3 separate regions of the Homo sapiens genome follow, and regions 2 and 3 are each reported to be linked to region 1. The links are microRNA targets in miRTarBase. Many come from high-throughput screens and were not tested one by one. Region 1 holds a microRNA gene; each other region holds the end of a gene's coding sequence.

Region 1 (4,000 bases):
TGGCATACAGCTGGTGCTAAAAAATATTTAATGACTGAATACCCATGTTCCTGGTAGAGACCTTCAAGAACTCTGTGCTCGCGTGTTCAGGGAGGCAAAAAGGTGGCAAAACAAAGGGTGGAGGCTGCCTTCTCACCCAGCCCTCCACGTAAGGCAGGAGGTTACCTGAGCAGCCCAGGGGAGACCCCATTTCCGTGGCCCCAGAAGCCAAGGATGGAGGCAAACTGGAAGGTGGGGTGATGTTGAGGCAAGGCCACGGAAGGGGGCAGGGAACCTTGTAAGCACCCATGGGTCTAAATGAAGGGACCTACTGGGGTGCAGAAGGCTCGACTGGACAGGTCTACAAGGAATGAGAGCACAGCAGAGTGCGCTGAAGTCGGCAGCTGGAGGGGACCGTGGTGTCGAGGGCCATGGAAGGGAAGCTGTGGGGACTGTGGGGATGGAGCTTCAGGCTCTGCCCGCCTCTTACCTGCTTCTTGGTATCCTTGGTAAGTGGTGGCAGACTGGCTTTGCTGGCCCGACGGCGGTTGTGGGTCGCAGCTCCTGCCTTCTGCAGCTTGCTCCGGTCTGAGTGGAAAAGTCCCACCCGTTTGGTGCATCCCACGTTGTACCTTCAGGGACAGGGGAACAGGGGATGTCACAGTAGTCATTGTGCTTATGGGCCGTAGGCAGAATGAGCACAGCCAAGCTGTCTGACAAATTTTGAGTCCATCTATTGGTTCAGATCCTAACTCCATCACTAACTACTAGCTGTGTGACTTTGGGTTTAAGTCACTTAAGCCCTGATCCTCCGTTTCCTTATCTGGAGTTGGGGGTAATACCACTCACTTTCTAGGTCTGGTCTTACAACATGAGATAATGTCTGTAAAATGTTTGAGACACCTGGACTTGGACCAGGGCGAAAGCTCACACCTGACTTATTCCACTATAAATGTTACCCTGTGACGGGAAACTACTGTCCACTGTCCTGCTGGGGAGTGGCCTGGCTGCTCCAACAGCCTGAGGGGAATGAGGGCTGAAGATAGCTGAACTCTAGCTTGGCATGCAGAACACCTCTGTCTGGGACCTAGAGATTTCTTCTCTTCTGGGATTTCAGGGCTTCAAGGTCAGCTGTTGCTTCCATTGTGGTACAAAGACCACACATGGCTTTAGAATTGGACAAGCCTAAATCCCCAGGCCCATGGCTTATTAGCTATGTTATCTGAGGCACTACTACTCCTTTGTACTTTGGCTTCCTAACCTGTATAAAGGGGACAATAGTAATACCTGTCTTGGGAGTTATTTTGAAGATGAGATAATCGTATCAATTGACTGGCACAGTGACTAGCACACAGCAGGTTCTCAGGAAATGGCAGTGGTTTTTATGATGACCATTAGTGATCTATGCTGGGCGAGAGCTCACCAAGGGAACACTATAGCTGTGGTTCTGGGTAAGGCTTACCCTAACAAGGCAGGGGCTGTCAATGCTAGGAAAGGCGAATGGGTGCCAGTGGAGCCCAGGAGGGCCAGCCGAGCCAAAGCACTGCGGCTTTTCCTTGGACTCCCGCTGCTCTCTCCCACCTGCTCTTAGGGGTTCTGGCTTCTCGTGCTTGTTGAATTAGGGATGCCATCCTGCTTCCAGGTGGGTCGAGGAACTAGGAAACTGGAGAAGCCACCCCTATGGACCTCCTGGGGTAGACTATTAATGGCAGGAGGTGGGACATAAAGTGCAGTCCTGGGGAAATGGAGGGGGCTGGGGCCACTCACCTCTTTGCACAAGCCATGGAACAGAAGCGCTTGGAACGCTTGAACTTATAGGCAAAGTCCACCCGGCCACAGAGCTCACACTTGAGTTTGAGGGGAGCACCCTCCTCTTTGGATTCTGAAAAGTATAGAAATGGGTAGGGTGGAGAATGAGAAATTCCTGCAGGACTGTGGCCAGCCCCACCACGGGGCCTCCCTACTCCATCCTGCCTGGTCCTCCTGCTCCCACAGCTGTGACATACAGCAGCATTCTAGCATGGAAAATGCCAGTGGTTCTCACCCCTGGAATGCACTCAAGGGTGTCTGGGGATGCCCCTTGTAGACTTGACATTTTTTTCTTCCACGTGGTCTGAGTCTGAGGCAAAACACAGGTGGGGAAGAATCAGCATCAAATGACTGTGGAAGAAAGCAGGAGCCCCCAGGAAATACTCTGGATGCTGTCACAGCTGCTCCGCTGGCATCATCACACCTTGATCTATGCAGCTGGCTGCTGACCCAGTAAAAGACCTCAGGAGCCCACGCTCCTGCAGCTGTGCAGCTCTGTCAGTGCTTCATGTGGAAAGAGCAGCCTTGCCTGGTCTCTGCTGTGACCTAGAGCTGGCCCCAGTCTCAAGGCAGGGACGAAGGGCAGGACTTGCCTGGGGCCACTCCTACAGTCATGCCTAAAACTTGCCAATGATTCCCACAGGAAAAGCCATTCTTGGGATCCTGTGGTTGGCTGGAGGGGGATTGGGGGAGCAGAGGACACATGGTTCCCGTGATTTCCCCTATCCCTCTTTTTGAGGGAAGGAGGCTGAGGAGGTGCTGGGGGAAATGTTTACAGACTCGCTGGCTCAGGGTTCCTCTGGGGAAACAGAGAGAGGAAGTGTGTGAGGCCTGCCTTTCCAGCCACGCTGGGAGGCCGAGAGATTCAGGGTCTGAGATGCCCACCTTGCAGATAGGGCTCCTCCATCTCCGAGTCAGTGGTGGTGGTGTGATCCTGCTGTGGAAGTTTCTCAGGCAGGAACCCCTGTGCATACTTCTTCTTGAGATTCCCCACCAGCAGGGACGAGCGTCCCACCTAGAGGACAGGTAACACGGAGGCCGTGAGGGTCAGGTGGGAGCGGCTTCCTTGCTATCCATCCTCATCACAATTACACGTATAAAGTATCCAGGCACAGAGGCCAGCCCTCCTCAAACCTTCCCCCATGTCATCATCCAAGTGTGCTGGGCTCAAGGCCCTATTTTGCTGGTTGGCTCACGAGGTAAGATGCTAATGGGCAAAGTACAGGGATGGCTTCTGTCCAGGACCAACGGATGGCTCAGGAGATTAGGAAAATGTCTATTCCAGTAAGAGTCTAAGGGCTGAGATCAGGTTTCCCACAGTGCCAGATCAAGCACCAAGACCCAGTACCCACGCATCTCCAGGCAAGGACAGAGCGGAGTCTGTGTGAGGCTGTACATACGAGAGAGAGACTCAGCACCCATTTTCTGATTTTTTTACTGTTCTCCACCTTACCCCAATGCCTGACCCAAGCCAGAGGTACAGGCCGCCACAGAGTATAGCAGGAAAAAACAGACCCTGGGCCACAGAGCCAATGAACTCTCAGTTGTCAGAACCCCAGAGCAGCTTATTTACGCGTTTAGATCTCCTTTTGTGGCCTGTGTTTAGGCAGCCTGGTAGCCAGTCACGTGGCACCGACTCTAGGGCAATGCTGGGGGTGCTATGCAATCTGCCTCCACCCCATGAGATCAGGTGGTTTCTAGTGTTACTCTAGGAGGCCCAGTCTAACAGGGAAGGGATGTAACAGAGCGAGAGCCACTTCTAGCTAAGGTGTTCCAGGCAGATTTCTTTGCCACTGGCCTTGGACAACCTCCAGTGGGAAAGAAGACAAGAAGCTATGTGTCTTTTGGCATTTTACAGGAGCAGTTCACCCATCTCAGTTAATCAAGCTCCGCGTCTTCTGCAGACTAATCAAACCACTCATGGAACCAAAGAATGAGGAAAAGGCAGATGGTATCCCAGAAAGGTGTCTTCTCCAACAGCCAGATACTTTTCATCAGAACAGAGGCTGGTGTGCCGCTGGCTCTGGGCTCCTCCACACCCACAGGGCAGCACCACTGTCTCCAGTGCACACTGCACAGAAGCAGCTCTGGGTGCTTTGGTCAATAACCCATCTTCGTGGCTCGTGGATATTTCTTGTTAGTCTTAGGCTTCCATCGTGACCTTTCTGAGTGCCCCTCAATCTCATTAACTCCCCTTTCAAGGCTCTGTCCC
Region 2 (4,290 bases), not on the chromosome of region 1:
GCGGAGCCGCGGGTGGGGGCGTCGGAGGCGGCGACGAGCCGGGCAGCCCGGCCCAGGGCAAGCGCGGCAAGAAGTCTGCGGGCTGTGGCGGCGGCGGCGGCGCGGGCGGCGGCGGCGGCAGCAGCAGCGGCGGCGGGAGTCCGCAGTCTTACGAGGAGCTGCAGACGCAGCGGGTCATGGCCAACGTGCGGGAGCGCCAGCGCACCCAGTCGCTGAACGAGGCGTTCGCCGCGCTGCGGAAGATCATCCCCACGCTGCCCTCGGACAAGCTGAGCAAGATTCAGACCCTCAAGCTGGCGGCCAGGTACATCGACTTCCTCTACCAGGTCCTCCAGAGCGACGAGCTGGACTCCAAGATGGCAAGCTGCAGCTATGTGGCTCACGAGCGGCTCAGCTACGCCTTCTCGGTCTGGAGGATGGAGGGGGCCTGGTCCATGTCCGCGTCCCACTAGCAGGCGGAGCCCCCCACCCCCTCAGCAGGGCCGGAGACCTAGGTAAGGACCGCGCCGCTGCACCCCTTCGCCTCTCAGGTGGCAGACGGCAGGCCGGCCAGGCCGCGGTTCCCAGTCCACCTCGATTTCCTCCCCTCTCCCACTCTCCGCTCAGCCTTCCCACCTCACTTGGCACCGTTGCCTCGCGCCCCCAGCGTCCCCGGAAGGCCGGTCTGACCCCGCTAGGGAGAGCAGTCTCCAGGGGGATGCGCCCTGGTGAGGGGTGTGTGTGCGCGTGAGTGTGCGTGACAGGAGGGGAGACAGAGACACCCAGGGTCACGGGTAAGGACCGTTTTGTCAGCGCCACCCTTTCTTTCGGCTTTCAATTTTTGTTCTCCTTAAAACAAATGTTTTAAAACAAATTCCACCTCCTCCTCCTTTCCACCCACCCACTTCCTCTTGCCCTTGGGCTGAAATCCTTCCAGGTTGTTCAGCTTAATTTCTCAGTGGTGGTGATAAGAACAGTGCTCACTAGTCTTAGAAAACAGCCGCAGAGACCTAAACAATAACCGACTCCCCCCCCCCCCTCTGGGTTTTTGCAGATGTCATTGTTTCCAGAGAAGGAGAAAATGGACAGTCTAGAGACTCTGGAGCTGGATAACTAAAAATAAAAATATATGCCAAAGATTTTCTTGGAAATTAGAAGAGCAAAATCCAAATTCAAAGAAACAGGGCGTGGGGCGCACTTTTAAAAGAGAAAGCGAGACAGGCCCGTGGACAGTGATTCCCAGACGGGCAGCGGCACCATCCTCACACCTCTGCATTCTGATAGAAGTCTGAACAGTTGTTTGTGTTTTTTTTTTTTTTTTTTTTGACGAAGAATGTTTTTATTTTTATTTTTTTCATGCATGCATTCTCAAGAGGTCGTGCCAATCAGCCACTGAAAGGAAAGGCATCACTATGGACTTTCTCTATTTTAAAATGGTAACAATCAGAGGAACTATAAGAACACCTTTAGAAATAAAAATACTGGGATCAAACTGGCCTGCAAAACCATAGTCAGTTAATTCTTTTTTTCATCCTTCCTCTGAGGGGAAAAACAAAAAAAAACTTAAAATACAAAAAACAACATTCTATTTATTTATTGAGGACCCATGGTAAAATGCAAATAGATCCGGTGTCTAAATGCATTCATATTTTTATGATTGTTTTGTAAATATCTTTGTATATTTTTCTGCAATAAATAAATATAAAAAATTTAGAGAACCTTAGAGTTTGGTCTATATTTTTAAAACTAAAGATTAAGTTGGTGGTAAATACCTGCTTGTTTAATTCTAGAGGCACCCAGGAGGGAGGGGGCACTAATATAAACAAAGCAATGAAAAACTCAAATAAAGCAGCTACTGACAGGCACAAGCATGTTATTTTAAAAGACAGCTTTATTATTATTCCAGTTTGGTATTCAGAGGGCTTAGTAGCATCTCTTCATCTCTTACTGTCTCCAAACAGCAAAAACTTAACAAATTTGCTATTCACCTCCTTTTTATTTTGAGGTGATAGTTGTTAAAACAGTTAAATGCAAATAAGGAGTATAAAACCTGCACTATTCTCTTATTATGTACTTTTTGTCATGCTCTTCACTCTTTGTGAAGATTCCTAAATAACAGGTTCTTTTCAGTGAAAACATATATAGTGTTATGAAAATTATCTATACACATATAGAAATGACCAGAAATGCATAGAAAATAAAGTGTAAATCAGCAGAAAAGAGAAAATTCCATTTGTAATTTGCTTAACTCTTCTCTCATGAATGAATATGACGTTTAGTGTCATGTTTGCTAAAAAGAAAAGTTAATATATCGCTATATTGACGCTATTTGGGAAGCATCATTCTTTTTTTATGTGTAAAGAATATAAGGCTGTGGAATAATATACAAAAATGAAGATCCTGAACTTTCAGTATCCTTGGTAACTGGATATAATCACAGTTGGAATAATCACAGTTTTAAATACTACAGCTATGCAGTTACTAGTCAGTTCATTAGCGTTATATTTTATCCAGAATTACACAGAATTTTTCCCTGGTGAGATCATACATACACACACACACAATCTGAAGTTAAGTAAAACAATAATGGGCAAACGGGGGTGTTTGATTTTTTATTTCATTCTGATTATTTGTGGGCCAGGAACATACTGGCTTTTATAATTAACATTATTAGAAATAGTGATTTTGTATCAGTTCTTAGCTTTTACATCCGATTTACTGCATCCAAGTGTAACTGGGGAAGCTTTCAAACTGGAAAATCATTTTGGTGCCTGTTTCAAACAATGACTAATAAGTGTATGTATCCAAACAGATCGTTTTTGCTTAGCTCAGGTCAAAGTTATTTTATTGCCTGAAGGTTTTTGTTTTCTTCTTCACACAGCACCATAGAATGCTGACATAAGAATATTATGAATTTATTGTTAATATTTCAGACTATATTTTACAATAAGGAGTCTGCAGCATTGACTTGTATTAAAAGGTTAGTGAAAGCTTGGAGAAGTATTATTATTTTTTTATTTTGATAGTCCTTTAGCAAATAACAGAAAGGGAAGGCGATTATGTGTTGGTGTATTTGTTGGGGGTGTGTGTGTGTTGTGTGTAAGGCAGGTTAGAAATGTAAGGAGGGTGCCCTAGGAGGATGAGGGAAAGCATTAGGTTGGTAATTCTTTTTTGTATGTATCATCCAACCACCTCCATTTTCTAAATTATTCATGGGGAGTCTCCTTGTTCACTAGCTTGGTCTGACTATTTGATATTTCAGATTTCTTAAGGTACACCAGGATGGAGCTGGCCATGACTGCTGAGAAGGTAATTGTTATCTTAACTCTGGATATAAGAACTAGATGTGTCAAAGAAAGGTAGCTCTCCATTTGCCTTTCTTTTATTTCTTTCTTTTTTTAATGTGTTTTGCTTTTTCTACTTTTTTCATAAGGGGAAACACTTTGGAGAAAAGCAAATGCCATATTTATAGTAATATTAAATACTAATCTGAAGGTAATGTTTCCCCCCAGATTTTCAGAGAAATAAATGAATGAAAAAGGTGGTAATTTTATTTTGAATGAGGCGACTGCACAATGAAAAATATTAACTACTGGAATGCAGTTTCCAGCTTGCAGATTCTAATCCCTACCCCTGTATACACAAGACATAAATCGTGAAATTCTTTTTTAGAATAGAAATGAAGCCACCTGTTTCTTTTCCTCCACCATTATATCTTCTTTTGATTTTATGTTATTTCATTTTATTTTTGCTACCTACCCTTATTTAAAGAACACATAGAATGAATTACCTCTTGTTTTCGGAAATAAGAAGCTAAGGCTTTCCAATTAATGTGTTGGTTCACTTGGGATCTTTTTCCTTCAGAATGCATTTGCTAGGGGAAAGTATTGTATTAAATTGTCTTGGGTAAATTGTAGAAAATTTAATGTTTCCTTTACTGTGCTATTGATTACTTTTATTTATAAGTTGGTCAGATTGATAGCCTTTAGTTATAAGAAAGCAGTAATTTTTTTACCCATATGCACATTTCCCCTTTTGTTCACAGAAGCACATGTCCAGATGATAATTCACGCACAGTTACAGGTTCCCCTCCCCAAAGTGGAACGTATTATTAATAAAATAATGTTAAGGAGCAGAAACTTGCACGATGTGTGTAAATTTTTTCCCACACTCAACAACGGCACAAGCTTCTTGACCCTTCGGTCTTAAGGTTCATATTCATAATGGAGCTTTTTAAGGGACATTTGGCCTCTTGCAAAAAAGTAGAGCATTTTGCACATTCCATGGTTTGGCAAAGTCAGAACTGGTTAT
Region 3 (4,290 bases), not on the chromosome of region 1:
AAAGGGGTCCTGCAATGTCCCCCAGCAGCCTGTCATTGTGTGTGAAACTCCTAGCCTGAGAGCCCCACCTCTGGTCAGCACTAGTGTTGGGAGACTTCTGGGAGGGATTGTGACTTTCAGCTGGGTAACTGGTGTCTGGCTGAGGCCATCTTGAGCGCAGTGAGGAAGGATCTCCAGCCTGAGTGTGCCGTGGGCCCCCCGAATACATAGGGGAGCCCTGCAAAGCAGTTTTGAAATGAGTAGTACATCTCACGAAGAAAGTCTGCAAGAGGTCGAGGTGCATGAGAAAGATCTGGCCCTGCTGCCCTGGCGCCACCTTGTGCCCTTTCTGCTGCTGGGGGTCTCATTGGCTCAGAGTGCTTAGTAAACATCAGTGGCGAGGGGGCAGGAGGATGCTCAGCCCTGCCAGTCGGCCCAGCACCAGGCTCTTTTTAGCACCGTGGAGACCATAGGCTCCTTAAGAACATTTTGACACAGTTTTAGCCGGTTTTTTTTTTTTTTTTTTTTTTTTGAGGATGCATTGATGTATTGATTTGCCTGGGAACAATGGCCTATAGTTCAGCCTGAGAATTCTCATAAAGTTAAGAAGGCATAAAAATGCCCCCCCCCCGAGACTCGTCAGGAGTATTGACTCTCCTACAGTTTAATTTGCTGCTTTTGTGGTTTCTGTGATGTCATCCCACATGTGTAAGCTGGAAAAATCCACGCTGTGAAATGTAACCTCCTGTGTGTATTTCCACAATGGAGAATGTTAGGCTTCGTTTCCCTCGGTTGCTACACATCTGATTACATGTGTCAGGAAAACAAACTTAAAAAATTTCAGGAGACAAACCTTTCAGCGGAATTGCCTGGAACCCATGAAGTGAGGTCATAGAACCTACAACTATAATAAGCTGTAGGAAGAAAAGTAGCCTCTGGGCTACTTTGTGTCTAGTCACATTGACTTTCCAGGTGATGGCCCTACAAAACTCAAACCACCTCTATTATTCATGCCTATACAGTCTTTTAAAAAAATACTAGATTGCCATTGAAATATAAGTATTGATTTTTTTTGTTTTGAGGATATAAAAAAGAATACTCCACCCCGTGCCTCCCCCAACCACAAAACACCCTGGTTATTGGTTCCTAAGTTATGTTAAAATGGAATTTGCTGCTAAATATGCTTCACTTGATAAATACTGCATCTTGGAAGGATTAATACTGTCCATATTGTAAGGGAATATTAGTTTAAATATGTTCTTATTCAGAAATAAAATGCATGGCTCTATAATAACACATTAGTACTGTAGAGATAAGAATGTGTCATCAGCCATGGCCCCTAAGTGGCCATTGATGACATGGCATAAGATCACAGTTTTAACCTCCTTTAATATCAAACTCTCCTGGCTCTCTGAAATAGAAGCATAGGAATTACAGCTAAGAACAAACAACAAAAGAAAAACTCAGTTCATATCCTCTTATAATTGGAGGAAGGGCTAACATGCCAGATCTAAGGATTTGGGCATCTAAAAAGACAATGCCCACGTAATGCACCATAAAATTCTGTAAACCTTTTTAATAGTATATATATGTTTGGCTTTAGTACAATTACCAAGTGTAATCAGTTACAGTAATTCTGTATGTATCTCAGCAGTATTATTTTCCAGCATGGCTTTACATTTTAAAGAACTTAATAACTATAGAATAAACAGATGCATGCTATACGAGTTGGAATGTATTAGAGCTGGGTTCCCTTTTGTGTGTGTTTGTGTCACGTGTTTAGTTTATCCATAGTCATGAATACTATGTTGCCTAGATACAGTGGGGAACACCGGGAAAGTGAAATGCAGTTTTGTTTTCTGGAAGGCAAACCAAGATTCTTGGTACATATTTTTCTGTTTCAAAGCATAGGAAAACTGTTGACCCCCAAAAGAAGGCTTTCTCATAAAACACTCAGAGTGAATTATGTAACTGTTGTCAATTGTCTTCTAATGTGAAAACCAGTCCAGAAGACAGAGGCATCATGGCATTTTACCTTATCTGAGTATTTTTGTATTTCTCATGCCATTAGTCACTTTAAAGACCTTGTGAAACATGGCTCCCTAGTCAGGCATTTGAAGAGTGAAGAGTTCAAGGGGATGCTGCCCAAGCCAGCATCTCATAATATTTAGGAAGTTGATAAGCAAGTTGATTTCCTTATCACATTCTGTGATGCTCAACAGGTAGGTTGCAAGTGTTTAAGAAATAGGTTCAGACTCTGTTAAAAGCATCTTTTAAAGATTCCTGCAGCCAAGTTGGAAAAAGAGGATGCCCCATAGAGAAGGTTCTTTGTCCAATATCTACGAATAATGATAGCAGACATGAACTATACCCATGAACATCACATTCCATTGGTTGTAGTTTTTGCAAGCATAAAGAGTCTGCCTAATTGTTAATAAGTTGAACCTTGCAGTAAACAGACTTGATTGACTAGATCTGGTTAATGGTTCACATCTGAAAATAGTTGTGGTCCCATGGAAAGCCTCATCTGTCTGAATACAGGATCATTGTATTACAGTTTGTGGTGATTTGCTCAGCTCCAAGCAGTATAGGGAGGTGGCGGTTTGCAGTGCCTGGGCAGTAGGTTTCTTACAGAAACACCACCTTTCCCAAGCTAAATAACCTACTGGTGGCAGTGCTCTAGAAAGGACAGCGAGAAAAAGAAGTGCTTGGCATTTCTATCAAGCACCGCCTTGAGTGACACTACAGACCCCTTCCAAACATGCTCACGGCTGGTCAGCTCAGGGTCAAGTTCTGGCTTGTCTAGTGTTCCAGTCTCTATCCTGGTGTGGCTACACCTTAAGATTCCTGTCTGCAACCCAGGTTCTCACCAAAGCTTCCTGGCCAGAAGCCAGATTTCTCCCAGGTGTCCCTGGGAGCCTGCCTGCCAGTTGTCAAGGGGCACAGGGCCTCCCTGAAAGCCAAACACAGCCTGGACCTGAAGCCCCTTGGCTCTGGCCTGAGATGGGGAATCCAGAAAATCAACTGAGATTCTACTTGGGATCTCTTGAGCTGCATCTGGTACCATAAGCACAGCTGGGGGTAGTTGGGGGACTGCTTTCCAATAAGGCCTTGATCAGAAAGCAAACACATCCTGTCCAGAATCCCATCAAGCAGGATATTTCAAGTTCACTAAAATACTAAAAGCACAACAAGCCTTCCTGCCATGGAAAACTCAGTGATGGTAAAAATGCCTACTACAGCGCACTGCACTGTAATCAACATTCTGCATAAATTAATAATTTACAAGTACCTGAGCAAGTAGACAGAGCACCATAGCACAGCACAGCACTGACGGCAGTAGCTCAAAGTTCTTATAGTAATGATGTTTTAAACATTAAAAAAAATCCTAAAAGTTGGTACAAAAAACTCCAACTGGAGCTGAAAGATAGTGCAAACTTCTGTCTTCACTGTTGAAAAAAGGTGTCGGCTTCTCACTTAATATAGGCGGTGTGGGTGGATCTGGGCACTTGGTGTGGATATTGTGGAGCAGGTCTGAATGAAGAGAGGAGAAAAAAAAATGATCAGAGACCTTGAGAAGTGATTCTGAGGATAGAGAGGTCTGGGGTTGGAGATGTATTCTGATAGTCTGAAGGGTTTTCTGTGTCAGATACCACTGCCCCTCATAACGGGGGTGGGAAACCTGTCTCCAAAGCCGCACTTCCCACCCACAAGTCAACTCTAGACCAGCACTGTCCCACAGAAAAAATGTGAGCTACACAAGAAATTTTAAATTTTCTAGTAGCCACATGAAAAAAGTAAAGAGAAAGGTGCAATTAATTTTAGTAATACATTTAACTCAGTATACCTAGAGGATTATTTCAACAGGTCATCATCAATAGAAAAAAATGGATAGTTGACATTTTAGGGTACTAAGTCTTCAAAATACAGTAAGACTTTTACCAGGCGCAACATGCCTAGCAGTCCCTGCATCCCACAGCACAGCTCCAGAGAACAGGGAGCAAAGGTGGGCACCCAGTATCCCTAAAAAATGAAATGTGCAGGACAGGACCAAAATCAGCAACTGACCAGAGGTAAGATTGGCCACAGCTTGAGGGCATTTAAGAAAAAGGGCTTCCCCTCATTGTTTTCATGTAAAGTAGTGTTTCTTCCTCAAATAGAACAAGAAAAATAACTTCAAGATCAACATGCAAACCACAATGAAATAATTAGGATGCTATGCAATTTTTCTCTATTTATGAAGTTGGGAATTAAACAATTGTCCTGACCCTTTGACCGCCTTTATCTCTGACATTTATTAAGCAGCTCTTT

Evidence for each region. The annotated mature microRNA hsa-miR-3605-5p reads UGAGGAUGGAUAGCAAGGAAGCC and lies in region 1 at 2,848-2,870, opposite strand. An mRNA with a match to its seed (bases 2 to 7 or 8) in the 3' UTR can be bound and repressed. Matches are read on the target gene's strand: a 7mer-m8 pairs with bases 2 to 8, a 7mer-A1 pairs with bases 2 to 7 and ends in A, and an 8mer does both.
Region 2: the mRNA of TWIST1 is a reported target of hsa-miR-3605-5p. Seed matches in the 3' UTR shown: 8mer at 1,237-1,244.
Region 3: the mRNA of ADAM12 is a reported target of hsa-miR-3605-5p. Seed matches in the 3' UTR shown: 7mer-m8 at 2,283-2,289, 7mer-A1 at 1,058-1,064, 8mer at 511-518 and 7mer-m8 at 389-395.

The regions. Positions count from the first base shown.
Region 1 is chr1:33,329,602-33,333,601 of GRCh38, forward strand. MIR3605 (microRNA 3605) reads right to left here and starts at 2,891; the gene lies at 2,792-2,891. PHC2 (polyhomeotic homolog 2) reads right to left here. Exons shown (of 15, transcript NM_001385109.1): 11 at 2,674-2,803; 12 at 1,747-1,861; 13 at 470-611. RefSeq lists enhancers at 1-482, 483-983.
Region 2 is chr7:19,112,875-19,117,164 of GRCh38, reverse strand. It overlaps TWIST1 (twist family bHLH transcription factor 1), which reads left to right. Exons shown (of 2, transcript NM_000474.4): 1 at 1-494; 2 at 1,034-1,697. The coding sequence ends at 452. It overlaps LOC124901597 (a long non-coding RNA gene), which reads right to left. Exons shown (of 3, transcript XR_007060241.1): 3 at 3,920-4,290. Among named protein-coding and RNA genes, the nearest start is that of TWIST1, 2.6 kb to the left of the region's middle. RefSeq lists enhancers at 1-239, 263-522.
Region 3 is chr10:126,013,827-126,018,116 of GRCh38, forward strand. It overlaps ADAM12 (ADAM metallopeptidase domain 12), which reads right to left. Exons shown (of 23, transcript NM_001288973.2): 23 at 1-3,513. The coding sequence ends at 3,453. Among named protein-coding and RNA genes, the nearest start is that of FANK1-AS1, 43 kb to the left of the region's middle.